Linked DNA regions of Homo sapiens: all the other regions are linked to region 2. The links come from fine-mapping of genetic effects on gene expression. A gene starts in region 2. Each other region holds a variant in brackets. All regions are shown on one strand. Distances are between the middles of the regions.

Region 1 (8,175 bases), 100 kb before region 2:
TGATTATACTTTCTCATAATAAAATTGATTATACATATTTAGGAAAAAGAGCTATTATATATTAAAGAACATGCACTGTTTGAAACTTATGATGTAAGTGAAGACCTGTGAACTACAGAAACCACTATTCACTGGGAGGCCCTGAAGGCAATCTCACAACCAGTTAACCAAAATGGAACTCATTTACCATCCTCTCAATACATTTTCTTTTTGGTTCAGCATCTCTCAATTATCCACAGTATTAAAGAAAACAGAACTCCAGACTTAACTGTCTAGCTGTACTGCCACCATTATTTCTACTTTTCATTTTTACCCCAGTTACAAGTGTTAAGTAGCAAAAGTGGCCAACCTGAACTGTACTTAATAACAAAGAATATGAGTTTGGAATGAAGACAGACTGGTTTCTCCATTTACCACCTACACAACCTAAAACAAGTTACTATTATTTATCATTTCCATTTACCTTCAAAACAAACACTCCTACTGGAAGCAAGATGTTTTATTGTGAAACATCCACATTAAAAGGTTGTGAGGAAGTGATTAAAGGTGTTTATTCTCACAGGATGCTTCAGTGAAATGAAAATTTCCTAGTCTGACATTTTAAGAAATGGAGACTTCCCACATGAAGCCAAAGACACCTGGTACTATATTCAATATATCCTTAATGAAGGAAGGGGGTCCACAAGGCCTTCAGTAATGAAAGAGTCAACAAGAAAGGGGAGAACTGTTAAGATCTACCCACATAGAAAAGCAGAGGACAAAGTCCAAAGTAGCTTCCATTTAATATCTTAGAAGAGTTAGGTATAATGATAAGTAAAAGAAGTCAGACACAAAGAATATATACCACATTATTCAATTTCTATGAAGTCTAGTAACAGGGGAAATTAAATTATAGTGATGGAAGTCAGCAAAGTGGTTACTTTCAAGTGGAGAGAGGAAGGATACTATTTGGGAAGAGGCGCAAGGGAGCCTTGTGGGATAATAAAAATCTTCTATATCTATACTTGATGTAGGTAGTGGTTTCAGGAGCACACACATATGTAAAAATTCATTTGGCTGAGCACTTATGATCTGGGCATTTTACTTACAACAATACATCAATCATAGGGGATGGGGTCAATTCAGAACAAGGACCATAAAACTCCTGCAAGATTTTATAAACTGTCTAACTTTTTATAGTTTTACAATTTTGTTGCCATTGACCTATTTCTCTATGGTGACAAGCAGTAAATTTGTTATAAACATAAGTTCAGTGTTTCTTTGTAAGTAGCTAGGAAGGAAGAAGCTGGGCAGTCTATATGGCCTTCTGTAGCTAGGTCTTAGGGGGCTAGAAACAGAAAGAACCCAGGAAGTGTTGGTGTACACAAGTAGACACAAGGATAGAAGAACATGGAGAGACAGTTGGGCTTGATAGGAAATAAGAATCCCAGATGTTCTCAACAGTTAATAATTTATCTACATACTGTAATAAAATCCCTGATGTCCTGTAGATACTCACTAAGCTTTATAAACTTGGTTAAAAATACACTCACTTTTTCCAACAGAATTTTTAGAAATTATTTCCTCGCAAATCAATCTGATTATAAAATCTAACTTTAAGCTTGATTTTACCATGGTAAAGCTAACTTTACCATAACCATCATCCGCTCTGGACAATACCAAGGAAAAGACCTATGCATTATATGAAGTTGTACACACTCCATTTTATGGCTTTTATTAGCTGTTAGAACCATGCGCTGTGCTTCTCTGACACATTTATGGAAGATGTTTGTTAGAGTCACAAAAAAGGGGGTATGTGAAACCAATGAACAAAGAAACCTAGATTAACCAATCTTTGACAATGTCACCATTGAACAAAAGAAAAAAAAAAAGATGTAATGGTCTAAGACAAGGTATAATGAGCAAGGCCCATAACAAACCCTCTAAGTGGACAATTCCATTCTTACCTTTATCACGATCATAGAGCAAATCTTCTGTTGAGCAAGGGCTACCATCCTGGGATTCCGGGGGACAAAAAGGGGAGACACAGGGTGAATGACTGCTGCAGCTACTGCTGCGCTCCTGGACAGAAGGAGTCTGAGTGTCAATGCTGCGAGTACTACTGCTCCGGTAATGAGCAGGAAGTGGAGCTCTTCGACCATCTGGTATGTCCAACGGCTGTAAGAGGAATACCATTAAACATCCAAATGCTGGTGCATATATTCATCTACATAGAAAGCACATAGTATTTCCCTTGATTTCATATTCCACCACTACTGACCCAGTTTATTCTTCAAAGGCTAAAGACCAAGCTTGTGTCTTAAGCTAATTTCTGCGTATGTTACCTTTATTGAACTAAACATTTCTTTTAAATCAAATTGTTTGCCTTAAAAATTCCATAGCTCACTGTATGTACCTGTAGGTCAGCACATCCCACAAAACTCTTCAAGGACAGCGGGAGTCCTGTGCCTGGCACTACTCCTGGCACATGGCAGATATTCAGTAAACATTTGCTGAAAGAATTAACAAAGCTAAAAAAAAAATCACTTTGACTTGCTTGTAAGAAAAAGTGAAATCTCATATTCCTCATATTCACAGGTACAGATTTTTCTGTTTGTTCATTCCTTCCTAGTTTAATTTTTAGAGGTTATGAACAGAACCATAGTTTCTATTTCCTTTGCAAATTATCCAAAATTTCTAATAAAGAGGTTTATTCTATTAGTACTCAATAGAGTTTATTAATGTAACTCAAAAGAATTCTAATATTAGAAGAATTTGGATATCAAATTCTACTAACTCAGTATCCAACTAAGTAGGACTACTCATAATCTTCCTTAGTTTGAATACTTTGTTCTCAGTAGCAAAAAGAAGGAAAAAAAGGAAACCATCATCATAGAGCCACATATTTTGGTCTTGAGGGTACCTCAGAGCTCACTGGTCCATTGTTTTGTTTTCACAAATGAGGAACCTATAGTTCAGTGGCACAGCTAATTAAGTGGCATCAGAGATTCTGCTGCAGTGGACTCTTTCTACTTTACTACTCTGCTTCTGTAAAAATAGATCTTACTCCATATTCTTCATTTGTGTGCTAACAAAGTGAGGTTAACAAGTAAAATTCTCTATATTAAGTTATATAATTGAAAATATTTGTTGTTATTAAACACACAGGACTGCAGTGCTAGGGAAAAGAACCAATATGCTGTTAA[T/C]TTATTTATAATTTATTTTCACTATTTATTGTGTCTACTGCTCTTACTCTGATCATTGTCATTTCAGAGATTTTAGAAAAACTGTCAAGAGGGGAAATGAAGGAAGGTAAAATCAGGTGAAATTCAAAATGTATCAATATTTTCTATACCAAACAAGTGAAGGCCGAAATCTGAAACTATGCAAATGAAAACTTCATTTAGAGTTCTGCCCCTGCTGCCCTTGGAGTAGAGAAGAAACAGAGAGGCCGAGGGCTTTACTTGCACTGCTAGCATGACATACTCACCATACAGAGAGGAGCCCATGTCCTCCCTGTGAGCCCTCGGCACCCCACCTTTCACCCGGTGGGGCTCCCGGCTCAGGCCAGCAGCACAGCTGCCCCACCCCCTGGCTGAACATCCCAGTAGCAACGGATCTGTGTTTCTGCAGTGGAGCTCCCAGAGGCAACCGAAAGCCCCTCTGCCACTGCCACTGCAGTGGTACTGCCCTTGCTACCCTTGTACTAGGAAAGGAGCAAAGACCCAGAGTGCTTTAACCACACCTCCAGCAAGCTGCCACGGCCCTAAGAAGAGGTCAGTCTGTCTCCCCCAGGATCCCCCCAGCTTGAGCCCACAACGCAGCTGTCCTACTCAAAGCCAATCACACCGACTGGCAGCAGTTCTGCTATTTCTCTGGGGTGGACCCCAGAGACAAGGGAAAGGCCCTCTGCCATAGCCACTGCCAAGGTCCCTTCCCCTGCTGCCTCCAAGCTGGGAGAGAACATAAAGCCTTAGCTCACCCCAGGGCTGCAGCCTGGGAGTGCCAAGCCAAGATCTGCAGCCAGCACTTGAGTAGGAGAGGAGCCCACACTTTCAGAGCACTGACAGGGAGCGCAGCTGCAATAGTGAGGAAATACAGAAGAGCCACGTGGCTGAGCAAGAGCTTACCTACTGGCCATTACGCTTAAGAGGCATCAAACTTCAATCAGAGTGCAAACTTCAATACTGAAAATACTTAGTTAATAAACCCTCCTGTGAAACTAAGGACAATAAGTCAGCTACAAATAAAAACCTTGTACAATGCCTCAGACTCTAAAAACATCCCGAAAAGTCAACCGACTGTACAAATTATACCATGGTTGAAGGAACATCAGCCCACACAGGTGAGAAAGAACCAGTGCAAGAACTCTGGCAACTCAGAAAGCCACAGCGTCTTCTTTCCTCCCACTGACCACATTAGTTACCCAACAAAGGTTCTTAAACAGGTTGGAATGGCTGAAATGACAGAAAGAATTCATAATATAGAAATGAAGGTCATCAAGATTCAGAAGAAAGCAAAAACCCAATCCAAGGAATCTAATGATTACCATAAAATAATACAGGAGCTGATTGATGAAATGGCCATTGTAAGAAGGAACCAAACTGATCAGAGAGTTGAAAAACACACTATGAGACTTTCATAATGCAATCCCAAATATTAATAGCAGAATAGACCAAGCTGAGGAAAGAATCTCAGAGCTTGAAGACTGGTTCTCTGAACTAAGACGAAATTTTTTTTTTCTTTTCTGAGATGGAGTTTTGCTCTTGTTGCCAGGATGGAGTGCAATGGCACAATCTCGGCTCACTGCAACCTCCGCCTCCTGGGTTCAAGAGATTCTCCTGCCTCAGCCTCCTGAGTAGCTGGGATTATAGGTGCCCACCACGATGACCGGCTAATGTTTTGTATTTTTAGTAGAGATGGGGTTTCACCACGTTGGCCAGGTTGGTCTTGAACTTCTGACCTCAGGTGATCCTGCCTTGGCCTCCCAAAGTGCTAGGATTATAGGCATGAGCCACCGTGCCTAGCCAAAATTTTTTTTAAAAAGAATAAAAAAGAATGAACAAAGCCTCTGAGAAATACTATGTAAAGAGACTAAATCCACGATGCACTGGCATCCCTAAAAATGATGAGGAGAAAGCAAGCAACTTAGAAACCAGATTTCAGGATACCGTCCATGAAAACTTCCCCACCCACACTAAAGAGGCCAACATTCAAATTCAGGAAATGCAGAGAACCCCTGCAAAATACTACACAAGAGGACCATTCCCAAGATACATAATCATCAGATTCTCCAAGGTTGGAATGAAAGAAAAAATGTTAAAGGCAGCTGGAGAGAATAGGCAGGTCACCCACCTACAAAGGGAACCCCATGAGGCCAACAGAAGACCTTTCAGCAGAAATCTGGCAAGCCAAAAGAGATTGGAGCCTATTCCAAGCGAGAAGTGGCTATCTAGTCAAACTAAGCTACATAAGCACAGGACAAATAAGATCCTTTTCAGACAAGCAAATGGTAAGAGAATTCATTACTACCAGACCTGCCTTACAAGAGGTCCTGAAAGGACTGCTAAATCTGGAAAGGAAAGAACGTTATCAGCCACTACAAAAACACAATTAAGTACACAGAACAGTGACACTATAAAGCAACTACACAATTAAGTCTGCAAAGTAACCAGCTAACAACACAATGAAGGATCATGTACATATCAATATTAACCTTGAATGTAAATGGATTAAATGTCCTAATTAAAAGGTGCAAACTGGCAAGCTGCATAAAGAAGCAAGACTAAACAGTAGGCGTCTTTAAGAGACCAGGCTCACATGCAAAGACACCCATGCGGTCAAAATAAAGGGATGGAGAAAAATCTACCAACCAAATGGAACACTGAAAAAAAGCAAGATTGCTATTCTAATTTCAGACAAAACAGACTTTATACCAACAAATATCAAAAAAGACAAGGTCAGTATATAATGGTAAAGGATTCAATGCAACAGGAAGACCTAACTATCCTAAATATATATGCACCCAACACAGGGGCACCCAGATTCATAAAACAAGTTCTCAGAGACCTACAAAGAGACTTCGATGTCCATAAAATAATAGTGGGAGACTTCAACACCCGACTGCCAGTATTAGCCAGATCACTGAGGTAGAAAATTAATGGAGATGTTCAGGACCTGAACTCAACACTTGACCAAATGAACTGAATAGACATCTACAGAACTCTTCAACCCAAAACAATAGAATATACATTCTTCTCATTACCACATGGCACATAATATAAAAACAACCACACGAATGGACATAAAACAATCCTCTACAAATTCAAAAAAACTGAAATCATGCCAACCACACTCTTGGACCACAGTACAATAAAAATTGAAATCAATACTAAGAAAATTGCTGAAAACCATATAATTACATGGAAATTAAACAACCTGCTCCTGAATGGCATTTGCGTAAACCATGAAATTAAGGCAGAAATCAAGAAATTCTTTGAAACTATGGGACTAAAGATACAACATACTAGATTCTATGGGACACAGCTAAAGCAGTGTTAAGAGGGAAATTTACAAGCTCTAAAGGTCCACATAAAAATCCGATCTCAGATAACAAACTAACATCACATATAGAGGGACTAGAGAAACAAGAGCAAACTAACTCCAAAGCTAGCAGAAGACAAGAAATAACAAAAATAAAATCAGAGCTGACCTGAAAGAAACTGAGATGCAAAAAACCATAAAAGATTAACGAATCCCTGCATTAATTCTTTGAAAGAATGAGAGAGACTGCTAGCTAGACTAATAAAGAAAAAAAGATCCAAATAAACAAAATCAGAAATGACAAAGGGGACAGTACCACTGACTCCACAGAAATATTAAAAAACCCTCAGAGACTACTATGAACACCTCTGTGCATACAAGCTAGAAAATACAGAAAAAAACAGGTAAATTCCTGGAAACATACAAACTCCCAAGACTGAACCAGGAAGAGAGAATCCCTGAATGGAACAATAATGGTTCTGAAATTGAGTCAGTAATAAAAAGCCTACCAACCAGAAAGAGCCCTGAACCACATGGATCCACAGCCAAATTCTACTAGCTGTATAAAGAAGAGCTAGTACCATTCCTACTGAAACTATTCAAAAAAATTGAGGGGGAGGGACTTCTCCTTAACTAATTCTATAAGGATAACATCATCCTGATACTAAAACTTGGCAGAGACATGACGATGACAACAAAAACTTCAGGTGAATATCCTTGATAAAAATAGATGCAAAAATCCTCAACAAAATACTAGCAAACCAAATCCAGCAGCAGATCAAAAAGTGAATCCACCATGACTAAGCAGACTTTATCCCTGGGATGCAATGTTGGTTCAACATATGCATATCAATAAATGTGATTCATCAAATAGAACTAAAAACGGAAACCACATAATTATCTTAATAGATACAGAAAGGGCTTTCAATAAAATCCAACATCCCTTCATGTTAAAAACCTCCAACAAACTAGGCACTGAAGGAACATACTTCAAGATAAGAAGAGCCATCCAAGAAAAACCCACAGCCAACGTCATACTGAATGGGCAAAAACTGGAAGCATTCCCTTGAAAACTGTAATGAAACAAGAATGCCCTCTCACCACTCCTGTTCAACATAGTACTGGAAGTCCTGGCTGGAGCAATGAGGCAAGAGAAAGAAATAAAAGACAGCCACAAATAGGAAGAGTAAAGGCACATGATCCCTGGTTTTAGACAATATGATTCTATACCTAGAAAATCCCATAGTCTCTACCCAAAAGCTCCTTGATCTGATAAACAACTTCAGCAAAGTTTTAAGAAACAAAACATACAAAAATCAGTAGTGTTTCTATATACTAACAATATCGAAGCTGAGAGACAAATACAGAACACAATCACATTCACAATAGCTTAGGAATACAGCTATCCAAGGAAGGGAAAGATCTCTAGAATGAGAATTACAAACCACTGCTCAATGAAATTAGAAATGACAGTATCAGATAGAAAAACATTCCATGCTCATGAATAGGAAGTATAAATATTGTTAAAATGGCCACACTGGCCAGGCGCGGTGGCTCACGCTCATAATCCCAGCACTTTAGGGGGGCCGAGGTGGGCAGATCACGCGGTCAGGAGATCGAGACCATCCTGGCCAACACAGTGAAACCCCGTCT
Region 2 (8,190 bases):
CCATCCAGAGTATTCTAAATATGACTGTTTTTACATCTTTTAGAACTTATAATTAATCCTAATGATCTATCTTTACAAAACACACACACACACACACACACACACACGCACACAAAGATTTGCATTTCCTACTTACTATCTTGGACAGTAAAACTGTATTTGTTCTATGTTTAAATCCATGGGTTCTGGTCTGTGAGGTTTCAAAAAGAAGCAACTTTACTATATTTTCTTTTGGTTGTTACTAATGATTTTAGCTTAAAGATCATTAATTTTAACACTAACATCCTGCTTTTTCTCATTTGAGTTGCTCTATTTATCTCAAAGGTAGACTTTATGTATTACCATTACAAAAAAATAACTATTTGCATAATACTTTATGATTTTACGTCTATTACAAACACATCACAGGGAGCCTGAGGATTCATTCAGCAGCCTGTCATTCACCACTGCAATACCCTTCAGAACCAAACAAGAGGGAGGATGACATTTTACTAATGGCAGAAGTACAGGAATGAATGTAAATAACAAACCTTGAAGTTTTAAAAATACAAAAGAAAAAAAACAAGCAAAAAGAGGATGATGCATGAGCACAAACAAAACAGTTTCAATTTGTAAAACTCCATGTCTGCTATATATACAGCAAGGTATTTGGCAATTTACGTATTTCTATTATGGTAACCATTTAAATTATTTAAAACTATACTACAAAAATAAAGGAAATTATCATTTTTTCCTGGGTTGTATAAATTAATATTATAATAATATTAAAATTGACTATTCCTATTTATAGAATTCAGCTTTTCCTCAGCCTTGTGAAACAATCTGAATATCAATTCTCTATTACTCTAGCCTTAGCCCTACAAATATTCACATTAAGAATGCTTAAGACGCAGATAATGATATAATTTATTTAGAAATTGAGTGGTTTCATAATTTTTTGGTAAAAGAATCATAAAAACATTTTTAAGCTTCCATATTTTCTCCTATAATCATCACTCCAGATGAAATGCATGAAACACTGAATGCTCAGTTATGTCACCTTTAGTCGAAATGCCCATAGCCCTTGCAGCTTTTCATAAACAATATGCCTTTATACTATATACCTACCCCTTGAGCCATCAACTACTTAATGCTTTCAAGTGTAGTTTCAAACGCAGTTTTAACACCCTCTTGCGCGCACACACACACACACACACATACACTGAAGTGTGCAGAAAAAGGAGGAGGTGGAGAGCAGAGGAAGAAATGGAGCACGTTGTTGTTTTTCATTCATGCAGTATAGTGATGTCAGTGTCTGCAGCAGCAGTGGCAGCGGCAGGAACCTTGACCAGTGGAGGCTAAAATCCACTCAAGTCAGAACCTTACAGCATTCAAAAGAAATTGAGAAGATAATCATTCGAAAAATTAAATCAACTGTTCAGATCATGGATTTTAAATGGCTAAGGAAACAGAACAGTTTAGTAGGACAGTTTTAATTTGGGTAGTGGGGGTAAAAGGCGGGACATGGAGAAGTAACATAGGAGTAATATAATCACGGAACTGGGGGCACAGAAGCCCGCATTCAAAAATCACTGCAATGTAAGAAACTGACAAAACCACCTGGTGTTTAAAACAGCAGAAAAACATCTTTAGCAAAGAAAGCCCTTGCATTCCCAACACAAGCTCTCTGACACTGCAAATCTGTCTGCTGCACAACCAGACTCAGAAAAGTGTTTTCATCATGATTGCATTAAAATCGCATTAAACTCGTATGTGCCACACTACAACAAAGAGAATAGTTTAAGCCAGATCACAAATTTTATTAAAACTGCTTGATGATGGAGCATGTAATTCCTAGGCCATTAAGCCTTTTGAAGGATGCAGAAAAACAAGTTGTACTATTATCCGTTGTAAGATGTTAGTGTTTATATACAAAAGGGGAGGAGGTACTAGATGGCCATTATGTTGTTGCAGCAATTGCCGAAACTTCTCTTACTCACACCCACCAGACCCTCTGTACACAATCTGCAATGCTTATTTTATGCCTCTTAGTCCCTACAAGAAAATCCCAAAACTCAATTTGTGCACTGTTGAAGCGAAATCACTAAAAAATTTATGTAACTGTTTTCTGTTCGTTCTGTTACTTCTCATTTCATACAGTTCTAGAAAATGTGCAAAGGAGTTGCATATGGCATTAATCTGTTAGAAAATGGTGGCCTTTTCTATAAAATACAGCCAAAGATGTGTGTTCAGTTGTGGTCATTATTAGGGCGATCACGTTGTTTTCATTCATTCATTCAGGATTTGCTGGAGGATGTCAGTTTCTGCAGCAGCTGGCTTGACCTGGGGGAGGAGTGCAGGAGCATATTCCTCCCAATGCATACAGATTACAGGATGTATTTCTTGCTGCTCATGTACTCATCCCACTGCACTACATCCTACACTGGTTCACCATCAAGTGGTCAGAAAACAAGTGCGTTAGCAACATGCTAATTACGGGTCTGAAATATTAAAACAAAAACACCAAGACTGCAATGTATCATAATGCAGACAACCACTTTCTCCAACTCTAACACCTTCATCAAGAAAGCTCCATTAAAAAAAAAAATTCCACATACCACATAAACAATGTACAGACTTTGACAGTGTTTCCCTTCCAAGCAGAGATTTTTCCACCCAGTATGATCTGTTCCCTCCACAATGCAGCAGCAGCATCTGTAGCTCTAGTTCGGTATCTAACAATATTAGCTATTCCACTCTCCCTTATGAGCTTTAAGTCCCTGTTTTGGCTAATCTTCCTTTTCTCCCCCAGGGCTCAACTAAATCATGCACTGTGTCCCTAGACATAAACAAAACCAAAGCAAAACAGAAAACACTAAGGGAAACCCACAGCATCCACCAGCTCACCATTACCTTTGACACCTAACAAAAAAAGAAACTTGAGATCCTTGAACAGCTCAACTGAACTGTTAAGTGTACTTAAAAATGGAAGGAAAAAAACGAACACGTTCCACAAATAAGTTTTCAGAAATTTACCATGAAAATCTCCGGTAGAGCACAAACTGTTTCCAGTGCAGGAGTGCTCTGATGCATGAATATATAAAGGGGAGGGGGAGAAAGAGAGGGAGAGAGAGAGGCGGGGTGGCGGGGGGCTGGGGGAGAGGGAGAGAGGGAGGACTGAGGGAAAAAACCGTATACACTTCAATTGTACATTCAAAACTGTCCCCTCTAGCAGATATCATTACATCCAGCCGATATCCTTACATCGAAACTAATGCCACCAACCCTCTAAAAAATAAAATACTATCCCGGTAGTTACAGGCACGTTAGGAACTTTGCAGAAAAGCACAAAGAGACGGTAGAGATTACAACCGCCACCTTATCCGCTGCTGAAGAGTTTGTGTGCGTGTTAAGTGTTTCGCCCAGCTTCTCCTTCCCCGGCTACAAACGGCAAACACACGAATGAGCTAGCCAGCTCTTAAACTGAAAAACCTCTCGAAGCAGGCGAGTGATGGAAGAGAGACTCTGAGGGGCGGCATGAGGGTCAAATAAAAGTCGCTTTTCAGTTCGCTCCTCCAAGCCCCACAGCGACCGCAGGGGGGTGAGATTCCCAAAGCCACTTTCACACCTTCGATAATGCACTAGCAAAGAGAAGCCCGAAGAGGCTGAAGTTTCCACGGAGGGCACCGTCGGGGAGACGCAGCCCGGGAGGACGGGAGGGTTGGGCTCGCTACCTCTGCACACGGGCGAGCCGGGGCTCCGTCTCTCAGGTGAGCTGCTCCTCCGGTGGCTCTCTGGGGACCGTCTCGGGCGGCCCTTGGCCCGCGGCGCCTGCTCGGCCGGGGCTGCGGCCGCCGGCGGCGTCGGGCTGGACGGGCTGGGGCCGCGGGCCGCGCCGGGCCCCGGGAGGCTGCCCAGCGAGGCGGCGGCAGCGGCGACGGGCGGACGCGTGGGACTGTGCTGGCTGCCCCGCAAGAGCTGGTAGGGCACCGTGGCGCGGATGGGCTGCAGCAGCCGGCCGGCTCCCGCAGCCGGGGCGCAGCCCACGCCGCCGCCGCCGCCCGCACCGTTCCCGCTCCCGGCGGCGGCGACGGCGGGCGGGGACCCCGCGGCGCTGCGCCTCATCCTCTGCGACGGGGGATGAGGGGTCTGAGAGGAACTGGAGGAGGAGGAGGAGGAGGCAGTGGACATGGTGGCTCTGCGGGCCCTGGACGCCGCCGGCCGACACGGAGGCGCGGGGCGGGAGGCGCGCGAGCGTGTGGGAGCCGGCGCGATAGTGCGTGCGAGTGTGTAAGGGGGAGGGGCGGGGGTATCGCTGTGGGGGAGGAGTCTCGGGGCTCCCCCTCCCCAACGCACACCCCCGCCGCCTCGGCGAGGGGGGAGGGGAAGGCTGCGAAAACAAACGTCCAACGGCCGCAACCGCCCGGCTGGGCTCGGTGTGGCGGTCACGGCCGGGGCCGCAAGGAGCCCGGAGCCGCCGCCGCCACCGCTCCAGGCATCGTGCTGACAGGGCAACGGCCCGGATCACGCAGCCCCGAGGGCCGCTCGCAGCCTTCTCCTCAGCCCTCGCAGGGCTGCACGCACGGGAGAACCCGGCAGCTGCAAGGAGGGCCGGGACCCCTGCTTCTGGGGACCAGGGTAGAGAGAAAGGGCCTCGAGGTGCTGGCGCTCCTCGGAGTCCGCGCCACCGCAAACGCCGCCGCCGCCGCCGCCGCTTCTACCCACTCCTCACTCCGAATGGCAACTAATTCGCCCCAGCCGCACCCCGCCCCCGGCACCGCCTCCCAGCGCCCAGGACCCGGCAGCTGCCGCAGCGAGCATTTCCATTGGCTTAGGCGCTCCCCACTAGAACTCGAGTGATTGGTTCTGGAATAGGAGTGAGAGAAGCAGTGTCCAATGACAATGGTGCCTCCTACTTTGAAGGCGGGGCGTGAGGGGTGGCAGCGTGAGGTGGGGGCTGTGCGCGCAGGGAGGAGCGTAAAAGTTGACAGCCTTGAGGTAAGTGCGAGACTAGGAAAGTGGGACTGTGTGTGTCCTGCGCGTGTCCCGACACCCCCAGACACGCAAACGCCCCGCTAGGCAGGTTGCAGGGGCTCCACCCTCCTGGGCCGTCTGTATGACTTGAGACACAGGACACATGAGGCAAACTTTAATTTGCAAGTACACCTGCATCCGGTGGGATGTTTTAGTTAGAACCAGAAGACTGGATCTCTTTTAGTAAGCTGAGTTTTCGTGACCAGTAGCCTTATTAATCAAAAGAACTTCTGGTGATCAGGAGAAATGTCTGGAACCTGCACTGAACAAAGTAAAATACTCTTACAGCCTAACATTTGTAGTTATGCAGTGAAAAGAGATTATCAAGTTCTATGTTCCAAGACAATAACACTGAATAGCAGGGGTCAACAAGGAATTTTATGTCATTACACCATCAGTTAGATATATTAATGAAGGGCGCCCCTGGCTTTTCCGAAGCAGATAGCTTCTTGGGAGGAATAAATACCAGATGTAATGTAATAATCCATTGTGGTAAATTTGTTTTTTATTCTGTAATGAAACTGAAAGCGTACAAAGATTTTGGATGACTATCAAAAACATAAATTTACCCCACAGTAAACCAAGGTTTTAAACCTTAATCGGGAGCAATTAATGTAAGGATCTTCATCAGATAACTTTCATTAATTTTCAAGAGGTTAAAAGAGAAGCACAATGTCAAATTGGTCTGCTCGTGGTGTCTGCCCACACTGACAAGCTTCCTCTGATTTCAGGCACTATATGCAGGGGTCACTTTCACGTACAGGAGCCATCCTTCTTTTCTTCCTTGTGTGTTCAGACGAGAAAGCATACTAGGTTCAGTAAAAAAATTGATGAAACTCAATAAAAATACAAAAATTTCATGCAGTACTTCATCCAAGTAAAACTAGTGATAGTTCCTCAGTTTACCACATATTATAATAAGAGCTAACATTTATTCACCATGTGCCAGCCGCTATTCTAAGAACATTATGTGTGTTAATTCATTCAGTCCTCATATAATCCACAAGGTAGATACTATTATTATCCTTACTGTGGTCTCAGTTGTGGCATAAATAAGCTGTCTTGCCTGAGATCACATAGTTAGTATATGGGGAGCTAAAAATTTCACCCAGACAGACTGGCTCAAGAGTCTGAGGAAGCACTCTGCTATAGTACCTGGCAGCTCAAAGCTGTGGGGTACATAATCTGTAGAGTATTCACAATGGCCCACAAATCTCATCTGTGAGATAAGTTCCCATCAGTTCAAAGGAAATTTTACAAATGAAGACAGACCACTACTTTTTTTTTGTTTTCCAGAATAACATATATTTTAATTATGAATAAAAACTTTACTCTTTCAAATTTTATATAAATGGCCTATCTCATTAATTTAAAAACTGCATTATTTTGTGTGTAAAAAGAATGATAAATGATTTCTTTTCAGTGACTTTTCTCAGAATAGCAAGAACAAAAAATCTGACAGATTAAAAATATGTAAAGCTGGCTAGGTGCGGTGGCTCACGCCTGTAATCCCAGCTCCTTGGGAGGCCAAGGCAGACGGATCACTTGAGCTCAGGATTTTGAAACCAGTCTGGGCAACATGGCAAAACCCCATCTCTACTAAAAATGTAAAAATACTAGCTGGACGCGGTTAGGGAGGCTGAGGTGGGAGGATCACCTGAGCCCAAAAGGCCGGGAGATCAAGGCTGCAGTGAGCCTTGATCACACCACTGCACTCCAGCTTGGGTGACAGAATGACACCCTGTCTCAAAAAAAAAAAAAAAAAAAAAAAAAAGAAGAAGAAGAAGAAAAAAAGTTAAGATTTTTCTTTTACATGCTGGTAAATTTCTGAGTTGTTGCTTTGATTACAGCATAGTTGCATTATAGAAATGTCATCTCTAGCTACTCCTAAATATATTTATGGAACAACTTCAACACATTAGGTTACAATAATTCTAAATTTATTCTAGGTCACAATCACAATGATCAATACCTAATTTGGATCTAAAGCAACATACCTAGTCATATTTTAAGGACTTTCTGTGTTTGTTCAAATCTACCACAGCTGACTTAGACATCTAAAGCAAATCTAAATAACTCACACAGAGAAACAGAGAATTAGTATGATCTTAAAATACTATTTTCAGTTACTAGTAAGTCATTATGACCAATCTAGAAGCTCAGTCGTTTCTCTTTGCTATAGAAACCTTGGTTGTCTCTTAAACCTTTATTCTCACGACGTAAGTACTGATCTTCATATTTAAGGAATACAGGCTTCAAACAAATCAAAGGTGGCCTAAAATAAATTAAACTCAGTGCCTGCTTTCAAATGTCCATTTGTTGAGTTCTTGATAATATTTTATTCTTATTGAGGACAAAGTAAGCTCCAAGGATATATAGAAGCTTTAAGAAAATGTTCTTAGTAAATTGGAAACCCCCTAGAATGAGATGTGGATTGCTAGGCTAGAAGAGCGTTGTTATGCTACTATGCTAGCTATGGGGTAGTTAGGCCTAGTGCCGATTTTCCATACTGGTTGAATGTAAGTGTAACAATCTCTGAAAATCTTATATAAGACTTAATGTTAACAATGACCTCTTACTATGTTGTCCTGTGTAAAGAAGACAAAATTGAAGGCACAATTTGGTGGCATGAGAAATACTTCTGTATCAGTAGCCCCATGCCATGGCTATCTGTGGGACGAGGATCTGCCATTAGCTAATCTGAGGTAGAATTCTGTTCTACTTTCTTCTTAGTGCAAATATGGTAATAGACTACATTTTAGGTTAAATTAAAACTTGGAATCATTGGTTACATGCGATTTATATGCAGCCCTATGTGGAGAGATCATAAGATGAAGAAGCCACAGAGCCCACAGAGCTACCAAAACCTTCCTCTTCTAGCTCCATCTGGGTTTGCCTGGCTGAGCATCCAAGGCCCATCCAAATCTGAGAGGCAGTCCAGGCTGTCAGTATTTGCAATGAGGTCATGGCTGGGAGAGAACACTAAACAGATCTGCACTGATGTTCATCTTAAGCTGATTAAACTCTCTTGTAGATTGATTCCTAATAGCAACAACAACAAAAAAGCCTTGACTGAATTTTTGTCCCTGGCAGATGCTTAAATTAAACTCCTTACTGCTTGTGACAGCCTACGTGCACCTTTGCACTAGGTGTTCCCTCTGCCTGAAAGGTTCTTGC
Region 3 (8,190 bases), 130 kb after region 2:
CACCTGGCCTCAAAAAAAAAAAAAAAAAAGATCACTTGTTATATTGACAGTTCGTAGCTATAATTCCTTGCATTCTTCAGTGGAACCACATCTTCGGGAGTCACTAAAGTACCCACAAGTACACATTAGCTTTAAATAGTACTGTTTACCCGACTCATAATACTCCTTTTGCAGAGAAGGGAGTAAGAGTGTATACATGCACACGAAGTAATTTGGGAATGTAAAATAAAATATTAGAATGTTATATGTTTAATCCCTGTCTCCTCTTCCCAATCCCAACCCTGGCACAGGTACACTGAAACACAACTAAAAGGCTCTAAGGTTCCTATTGGCAGGAAAATAGCAACCAGCTGTCTTAGCCTTTAGGTTTTTGACATAAGAAAAGAAGGTACCCAACTCCTAACCTGCTGGCTTCTGACAAGTGCAGACTGCTAAGCCAGGCTATGATGGAGTACAACTCCTCCAAGCTTCACAACAACTGTAGAACGTCAATTCAGAATATTGCTAACTTCTAGCTTTTTTGCCAAACTTTATTAGGAACTTTCCTTGATGATCATCTAAAACTAGTGCTTTTTAACCTTCTGTGAAGAACCTTTGATAAAACATCTGGAGACTTTCCCCAGGATAATGCTGCTGCTATTGCCACTGTCAATAATAATGATGATGACAATAATAACAAAAATAAAAAGAGCTACCATTAATTGAGTGCACACTATATACAATAAATTGTGCTAAGTGCTGTTCAAGTAGTCGGGGATCCTCTGAATCAATCCTCCTTCCTCCCATAGTCCCCCAGTCTACAACAGTTCTCTCTACTGCTTCTTTTATTGGCTTGGCAATGCCAACATTCACGTAGCTACGTGAACCTAAATGCACGCTACAATCACTCAGGGAGCTCTTTTAAAATATAAATTCCCGAGAAACCACACCCAGAGATCCTGATTTAATTGGTCTGGGGTGGGGCCGGGGCATCAATATTCTATGAAAGTCCCTCAGATTATTCTGATGTGCAGTCGGGGTTGAAGACCACGAGCATATACAACCCATCCAACACTTCATCCTCTCAGTTCCATGTCCTCCAAAATCCTTTTCTTTCAACCGAGCTGGGTATTCCCATGATCATCTTAGACCCTGACACTAACAACTACACTAACCCCAGAACCCTATTTACCTAACAATCTGCCTCACATACTCTGGAAGCTACACTCTGCCAATTTTGTGACCTGCCCTGCCCCCCAAAATGGGGGGTCCATTTTTGCACTGTCTAGGTCACCATCATGTCTATTCTTTCTTCATCCAGCTTGAATTCTCTGTTTCATCATTGTATACACCCCAATTCCATTGCCTGTTTGTTCCGACCATGTTTTCAGCTAGCAAAACCTCAACCTCAGTTAAGCCCAATTTTCTGCCAACTGCAAACCTGCAGGCACTTGAGCAGCTGGATATGAGTTGGAGGAAAGCACAGAATCATGATGACTAGTTTCATTTTAAATTTATGGTCATAAATCTCTAGATGTGATCTTCATCTTCCCACAAACAAACCTACCAACCTACATGCAACTGTAACATATATTCTTCCCCAATCCCCATTAAACTTGTCAACTTGACCCTAAGGCCAAACCACTCATTTGTAGATTGCATTGCTTCTTAAGAACTTTGTTCTTGAAACTACCTTCTCTTCTTCCTTATTATGACTTTTCCCCCTCTCTCCCGGATCATTCCTATTAGCATTCGAACATGCTATTGTAAGTCCTATTTACAAAGAAACCCTTTTACTCCTGTCTCCCTCCAACCTACTGTTCTATTGCTCTGCTCTCGTGTACAGCAAGAGTAAAAAGGCTCAAAAAAAAGTGTTCATCTGGCCGGGTTTGGTGGCCGAGGCAAGAGAAGGGCTTGAGCCCCGGAGTTCAAGATCCGTCTGGGCAACATAGGGGGACCCTATGTGTACAAATAATTTTTTTTTAAATTAGCCTGGCATGATGGCATGTGTCTGTGGTCCCAGCTTGGGGGAGGCTGAGGCAGGAGGACTGGCAGAGCCCAGGAGATTGAGGCAGCAGTGAGCCATGATTATGCACCTGCCTTCCAGAACGGGTGATGACAGAGCAAGACCCAGTCTCAAAAAACAAAAAAAGTGCCCACCCTTGCTGTTTCCATACTTCCTTACTCCATCCCCACTGTGTAATTTATTTCATTTATTAAACAATGACGAGATACTATAATATGTGTAAGGCATAAAGAATAAAATACAACAATCAGCTGTGTTTCACCACCCAATTTAAGGAACAGAACATTACCAGGAACTCTGGAGTCTGCTCTCACTCCCATCTATTCCTTTTCCTCCCCTGCTAGAAAGTAAATGCTAATCTGAATTTTGCGTTTATTCTTGTTTTGCTCTTCTTTATAGCTACATGACAAATATATAGATCAATATATCTATATATTTCTCTCTAAATAATATATCGGATAGCTTTGCATGTTTTGAATTTCATAATTGTATTTATTCTTCTGTGGTTTGCTTTATTCTCTTAAAACTATGTTAAGATTCATCCATACTGCTATGTGAAGCAGTTTTAAATCTATTTTCATATCCTTAAGAGTATTTCATTTGTGAATAAACATTATTTATTTATTCATTCTGTGGATGATGGATATTTGTGTTGTTTCTAGCTTCTTCTACCATGAATAGCACTGTGATCATTCTTGTATGTCTATCAGTGTACAAGAGTTCATCCAGAGCATATGACCAGGAATGAACTTGCTGGATCATGAAAGAATCACGTATTTAATGAAGAAATGCCAGATTATTGCTAAAAGTGGTTTTACTAATTGTATTAGTTGACTGGATAATGTTGATTGTAAGATAATAATCTTTTACCATTTATTGATATTTGCTCTATGGTCCTGTATGCTTCTTATTTTCATAAATCTTCCATGCATCCTTGAGAAGAATGTCTCTTCCATACGTGTATGGTCAATATCAACCTTATTAACTCTGTTGCTCAAATCATGTATTCCCTCACTAATTTTTACTCTCTATTTCAGAGGTCAACAAACTATACCCTGTGGACTCAATCTGTTTAGCCTGTTGTTGTATGGCCCAATGAGCTAAGTATGGTGCAAAGAGGAATACACAAAACAGACTATATGCGCCCTGCAAGGCCTAAAATATTTATCTGGCCTCTCTTTCAGAAAATGTTTGCTGATCCCTGGTTTATTCAATAAATCAATTACTAAAAGAAGTAGATTCCAACCTCCAATTCTGATGACATTTTTTCTTTTTATCCTTGTGTTTCTGTCCATTTTTTACTTTATATAATTTTAGTCTGTTATTGGGGGCATACAACATTAGAAGTGTCATATTTTCCTGGTGAAATGAATCTTTTACCATTATCTTGTGACCCTCTATCTCTGGTAACACCTTTTGCCTTAAAGTTCATTCCACCTATATTTGTAGTTATGTCACCCTATTTCTCAAAACCTTTACGTACCCTTATGTAGGGTTTTCACGTAAACCACAGTACTGTATTTAGATTTTTAAAGCTAGTCTATCTTTTGAATTTAATCTAATAAACTGTGCTTTTTAACAGGAAAATTTAATTTACATATAGTATAGTAACTGATATATTCA[C/A]ATTTGTTCTATCATCTTGTTATGCTTCGTCTCCCTTTCTTTTTCTCTTCTTTTTTTAACTGCTTTTGGGTTGACTAACTTTTTTTGTTCCTTTTTAAATCTCCACTAGTTTAGAGTTATACTATTTCTTTTCTTTAGTGAATACCCTAGAAATGTTAACATGCATACTTAGTCAGTGGCTTTTGTTTTTGTTTTAACCAACTTCCTACATAAAGCAAGGACTTTAGAATGCTTTCACTCTAATCACTTCTCTACGGAGTTGTTGGCTATAAGCCATTACATTATTGTTTCACCAATCAATTTTAGTTTAGATTTATTCTCATATAAACCACTTTCTTAGTTCGTCATTCCCTCTTGTAGGTCACATCTTCCATCTGGGATCATTTTCCTTCAGCCTGACGTACATCACTTAGAATTTCCTTTAGAGAGAGTCTCTTGCTGCATATTCACTCAGGTTTTATATATCTGAAAAAAATTATTTTGCCCTTAATCTTCAAATTTTTGCTGAACATGGACTTCTAGATTGAGTTATATTTTCTCACCACTTTGAAGATATTATTTGACTGCCTTTGGATCCAGTGCTGTTACTGACAAATCAGCTTTAGTTCTGTTAATTCCTTTAAGGCAGTCTTTTAAGGTCATTTTGTTTGTCTTTGGTGTTATACTGAGTCACTATTATATGTCTAATGTGGATTTCTTTCATTTATTCTTCTTTGTGTTTGGGGGGCTTTCTAAATCTGAAGACAGATTTTTTTTTTTTAATAGTTTTGGAAAATTCCTAGCTCCTAATTTTCATATATTGTCCCTGCCCCATTCCCTGACCTTGTCTCTCCATTAAGATGGATGTTAGACACACCTCTTCATTATATCCTTCATGCTACTATTATGCATTTCTATGTCTCTCTGTGTTACATTCTGAGTAATCCTTCAGATCTGTTTTCTAGCCTATAAAATCTCTCTTTGCTTATGTCTAATATACTCTTTAACCTATGCATTGAATAACTGTTTTTAATTTCTAATGTTCTATTTTTTCCCAAATACACTTAATTTTTAATTCTCATGATCATTATAATATTTTAAGTTTGCCTTTTATTTATTTAAATATAGTAAACATATTTAGTTTGTGTTATATGAGATATACCAATATCTGAGACCTTTGCAGATCTGACTCTGTAACCTGTTTTTGCTAACTCTCACTTGGCCTTGAGACACACCTATCTTGATACATAGTAAATTTCTAAACTTCAAAGGTATAAAAAATAAATTATAGCATGAAACAGAAAAGATAAAACATATTCCCTACTAATGAAGAAAAATCAGGTTGGCCAGAAAACCATAGAGTGATCATTTTGAGCAAACCAAAGATTATAACATAAGACTTTTATAGCTAGTAAAATTACTGTTCCTTTGTAAAGACCATAGAAAACCACTTTTAAATATCCAAGAGCTTAAGAATATACTGAAGACATTTATAAAGTAATATGTAAACACGTTTACCACTAAAATTAAGAAATTCAGAAAGGTTAAATTATTGTACACAAATTGACAGTAAGCATTAAAAGCTGTTAAATATGGAAGTCGGTATAATTATTGTAGCTAAGAAAACCTATTAAGTACAGTTAATACAATTAATTAAATGGAATCTTTAAGACTATATTAATAAAGACCATAAAATAGCAAGACCGTGGATGATTAAATTTCTCATGTTACAGGAAGAAAGCAAAAGATATAATTGTTTGATTTGATAAAAAGGCAAAATTTAGATTAGAGAATGTTTTCAGTGAATGTAAAAATATCCACTTATGTAAATAAAAATAACATCATCTTCCAAACCAATTGAGAAGAAAACAAGCAAATAAAGCAAGATATTACTCATAACTAAATGGAACTAAAAACTAAATAGACTACAAACTAAATGGAAACAAAACCTCAGAAAACCTAAAATAAGATAACTGATGTAAGATCATACACATATCAGCTATTTCAGTAAATGTAATTGTTTTAAATCCCTTTATTAACTGACAAATAATCTCCACTGCTACTTAAAGGCCTTTTATCATGATGTTTATCATGTTAGCATACTATTGTGTTTTCTTCATAGCACTTACTACTATTAGAATTATTTTATTTATTGTACAATTTCCCACACTAGAAAATAAACTTCCCAAGAAAGGACCACGGCTGTCCTGCTCACTTCTATATATTGCTAAGAGCTAAAAAAAAAAAAAAAAAAAAAAAAAAAAAAAAAAAAAAGTGCTGTTTCAATGAGTGAATGAATGAATGAAAATCACAGAGCAAGATTTTTTTTTAAAGCAAAAAAAAAAAAAAGAAAGCAGAAGTTACAATGAAAATGTCATATAAAAGTGACAGCAAAATGCTTTTAGAATACATAAAGACATTTTTGCTGTTGATAAAAGATAAAACCTATAATGGAATTTAAGTCACAAATCTTGCTTCAAATAACAAGATCAAGATACACACAAAACAATAAAAAAGCAGAAATACAGACAGAAAATGATAGAATTACAATGATGAGTGACTAATATACTTCTCATAGTCTTTGACAGATTAAGTGAATAAAACATAATAGGATCAATGATATGGTTTGGCTCTGTGTTTCCACCCAAATCTCACCTCGAACTGTAAACCCCATCTATTGAGAGAAGTGATTAGATCACGGGGGCAGTCTCCCCCATGCTGTTCTTGTGATAGTGAGTTCTCAAGAGATCTGATTTTTTTAAAATGTGTGGCTTCCTTTGCTTTCTCTCTCTCTTCTGCTTCACAGTGGGAAGACATGCCTTACTTCCCCTTCGCCTTCTGCCCTGATTGTAAGTGTCCTGAAAAATAATTGGTAGTATCTCCCTGAATTACAAGCTCACTGTCTGCTATGGACTAATTGTGTATCTCTTCCTCTACCCTACACACCCCCACCCATACGTTCAATTCATATGTTGAAGCCCTAACTGCCGATGTGATGGTATTTGAAGATCAGGTGTTTAGGGAGATAATTAGGGTAAGAGAAATTCATAAGGGTAGGGCCCTCATGATGGGATTTGTGGCTTTATAGGAAGAAGAGGGAGAGAGTTCTTTCTCTGCCTGTGAAGACACAGCAAGAAGGTGGCCATCTGCAAGCCATGAAGGGGTTCTTCATCAGGAACCGAATTGGCCAGAATCTTGATCTTAGACTTACCAGCCTCCAGAACCATGAGAAAAATAAATGTCTGTTGTTTAAGTCACCCAGTCTATGGTATTTTGTTACAGCAGCCTGAGCAGACTGAGACAGTGTCCAATGACATGGTGGAGTGCAGTCTAAAAATATAAAAAGCCTGGGAAATAGGATAGGAAATTTATGGATGACAGATCATATCAGGTTATCTAGAAATGTTAGGGATAGGCCAGGCATGGTGGCTCATGCCTATAATCTCAGCACTTTGGGAGGCTGAGGCGGGTGGATCACCTGAGATCAGGAGTTCGAGACCAGCCTGGCCAACATGGTGAAACCCCGCCTCTAATAAAAAATACAAAATTTATCCAGGCGTGGTGGTGGGTGCCTGTAATCCCAGCTACTCAGGAAGCTGAGGCAGGAGAATCACTTGACCCCAGAGGCAGAGTTTGCAGTGAGCTGAGATCACGCCATTGCACTCCAGCCTGGGTGACAGAGCAAGACTCCGTCTCAAAAAAAAAAAAAAAAAAAAAAAAGAAAAGAAAAAGAAAGAAATGTTAGGGATACTTGGGTAGATCTCCACATTCTTGAGACTGATGACATGATAGGTTACCCACGGAATCTCCTTGGAAACCAGTGCTTGACAGAATAAGATGGGAAGCAGACTTTTGTAAGATTAGATAGGAGAATACTGTTCCTCTCTGGCATCTTCATTTCAAGTATTTCAAATAAAACCTGAAAAAGTAACCACCATGTTCTGGCTGCTATTCCATGATTAAAGACATACATAGAACTATGGTTTTGTATATTTAGCATATATGTGTAGTTTTTCTAATTCGTTTTTCACAGTGTAAAGGTTAATAGGCTCCAGTAACTATATTTCCTATCCTGCCATCTTTGCCTATTTGTGTAAATGTGCCATAGTATGGTAATTACCAAGAGTTATTCTCTGAAATCTGCCCGCTTCCTGACAACCTATTTTAATTGAAGGTACTTACCTCTTTCTTCCCAGTCATGTTGACCACCTGCACTCTGTAGAGTACTTACTACAGTCTGCAGACAGAAGCACCTTTCTTATGTCTACAGCTTGTTCTAAATTCCTAAAAGTTAACAACTGTACTTTGCCCATCTCTGAATCCCCCTCGGTGGTCACATGTCAGGATAGTTGCCGATATCAAGAAATACTAACACCACAGTATGCCTCATGTGTGTAGTAACTCTCTTTTTCACTCCCAATGCCAACAGTCCAGAGATGACTCTGGTCTTAATTTCCACAACGTTGCTGAGTGTATCTGTTCTCCTGTAGTCTGTTCCACTGCAGTTCATCTGGCATGGTGAGGCCTGCCCGATTTCACAGCCCAGCTCTAGTCTATCACTCTCCATCAAAACCACGCAGTGC

What was found. PIP is the estimated chance that this variant, and not a neighbour inherited with it, causes the effect.
Region 1: its variant is fine-mapped to the expression of GLCCI1 in prefrontal cortex (ROSMAP, PIP 0.95).
Region 3: its variant is fine-mapped to the expression of GLCCI1 in whole blood (TOPMed, PIP above 0.99).

What each region holds. Positions count from the first base shown.
Region 1 is chr7:8,064,903-8,073,077 of GRCh38, reverse strand. GLCCI1 (glucocorticoid induced 1) reads right to left here. Exons shown (of 8, transcript NM_138426.4): 6 at 1,947-2,157. Among named protein-coding and RNA genes, the nearest start is that of GLCCI1, 100 kb to the right of the region's middle. The variant T/C (reference allele first, on the strand shown) is at 3,186.
Region 2 is chr7:7,965,331-7,973,520 of GRCh38, reverse strand. GLCCI1 (glucocorticoid induced 1) reads right to left here and starts at 4,725. Exons shown (of 8, transcript NM_138426.4): 1 at 3,714-4,725. The coding sequence starts at 4,170. It overlaps GLCCI1-DT (GLCCI1 divergent transcript), which reads left to right and starts at 4,769. Exons shown (of 5, transcript NR_110018.1): 1 at 4,769-4,977. RefSeq lists an enhancer at 3,263-3,352 and silencers at 3,833-3,912, 4,003-4,062, 4,143-4,542, 4,753-4,902.
Region 3 is chr7:7,833,154-7,841,343 of GRCh38, reverse strand. All of the region lies in intron 3 of UMAD1 (UBAP1-MVB12-associated (UMA) domain containing 1), which reads right to left. Among named protein-coding and RNA genes, the nearest start is that of RPA3, 120 kb to the right of the region's middle. The variant C/A (reference allele first, on the strand shown) is at 3,629.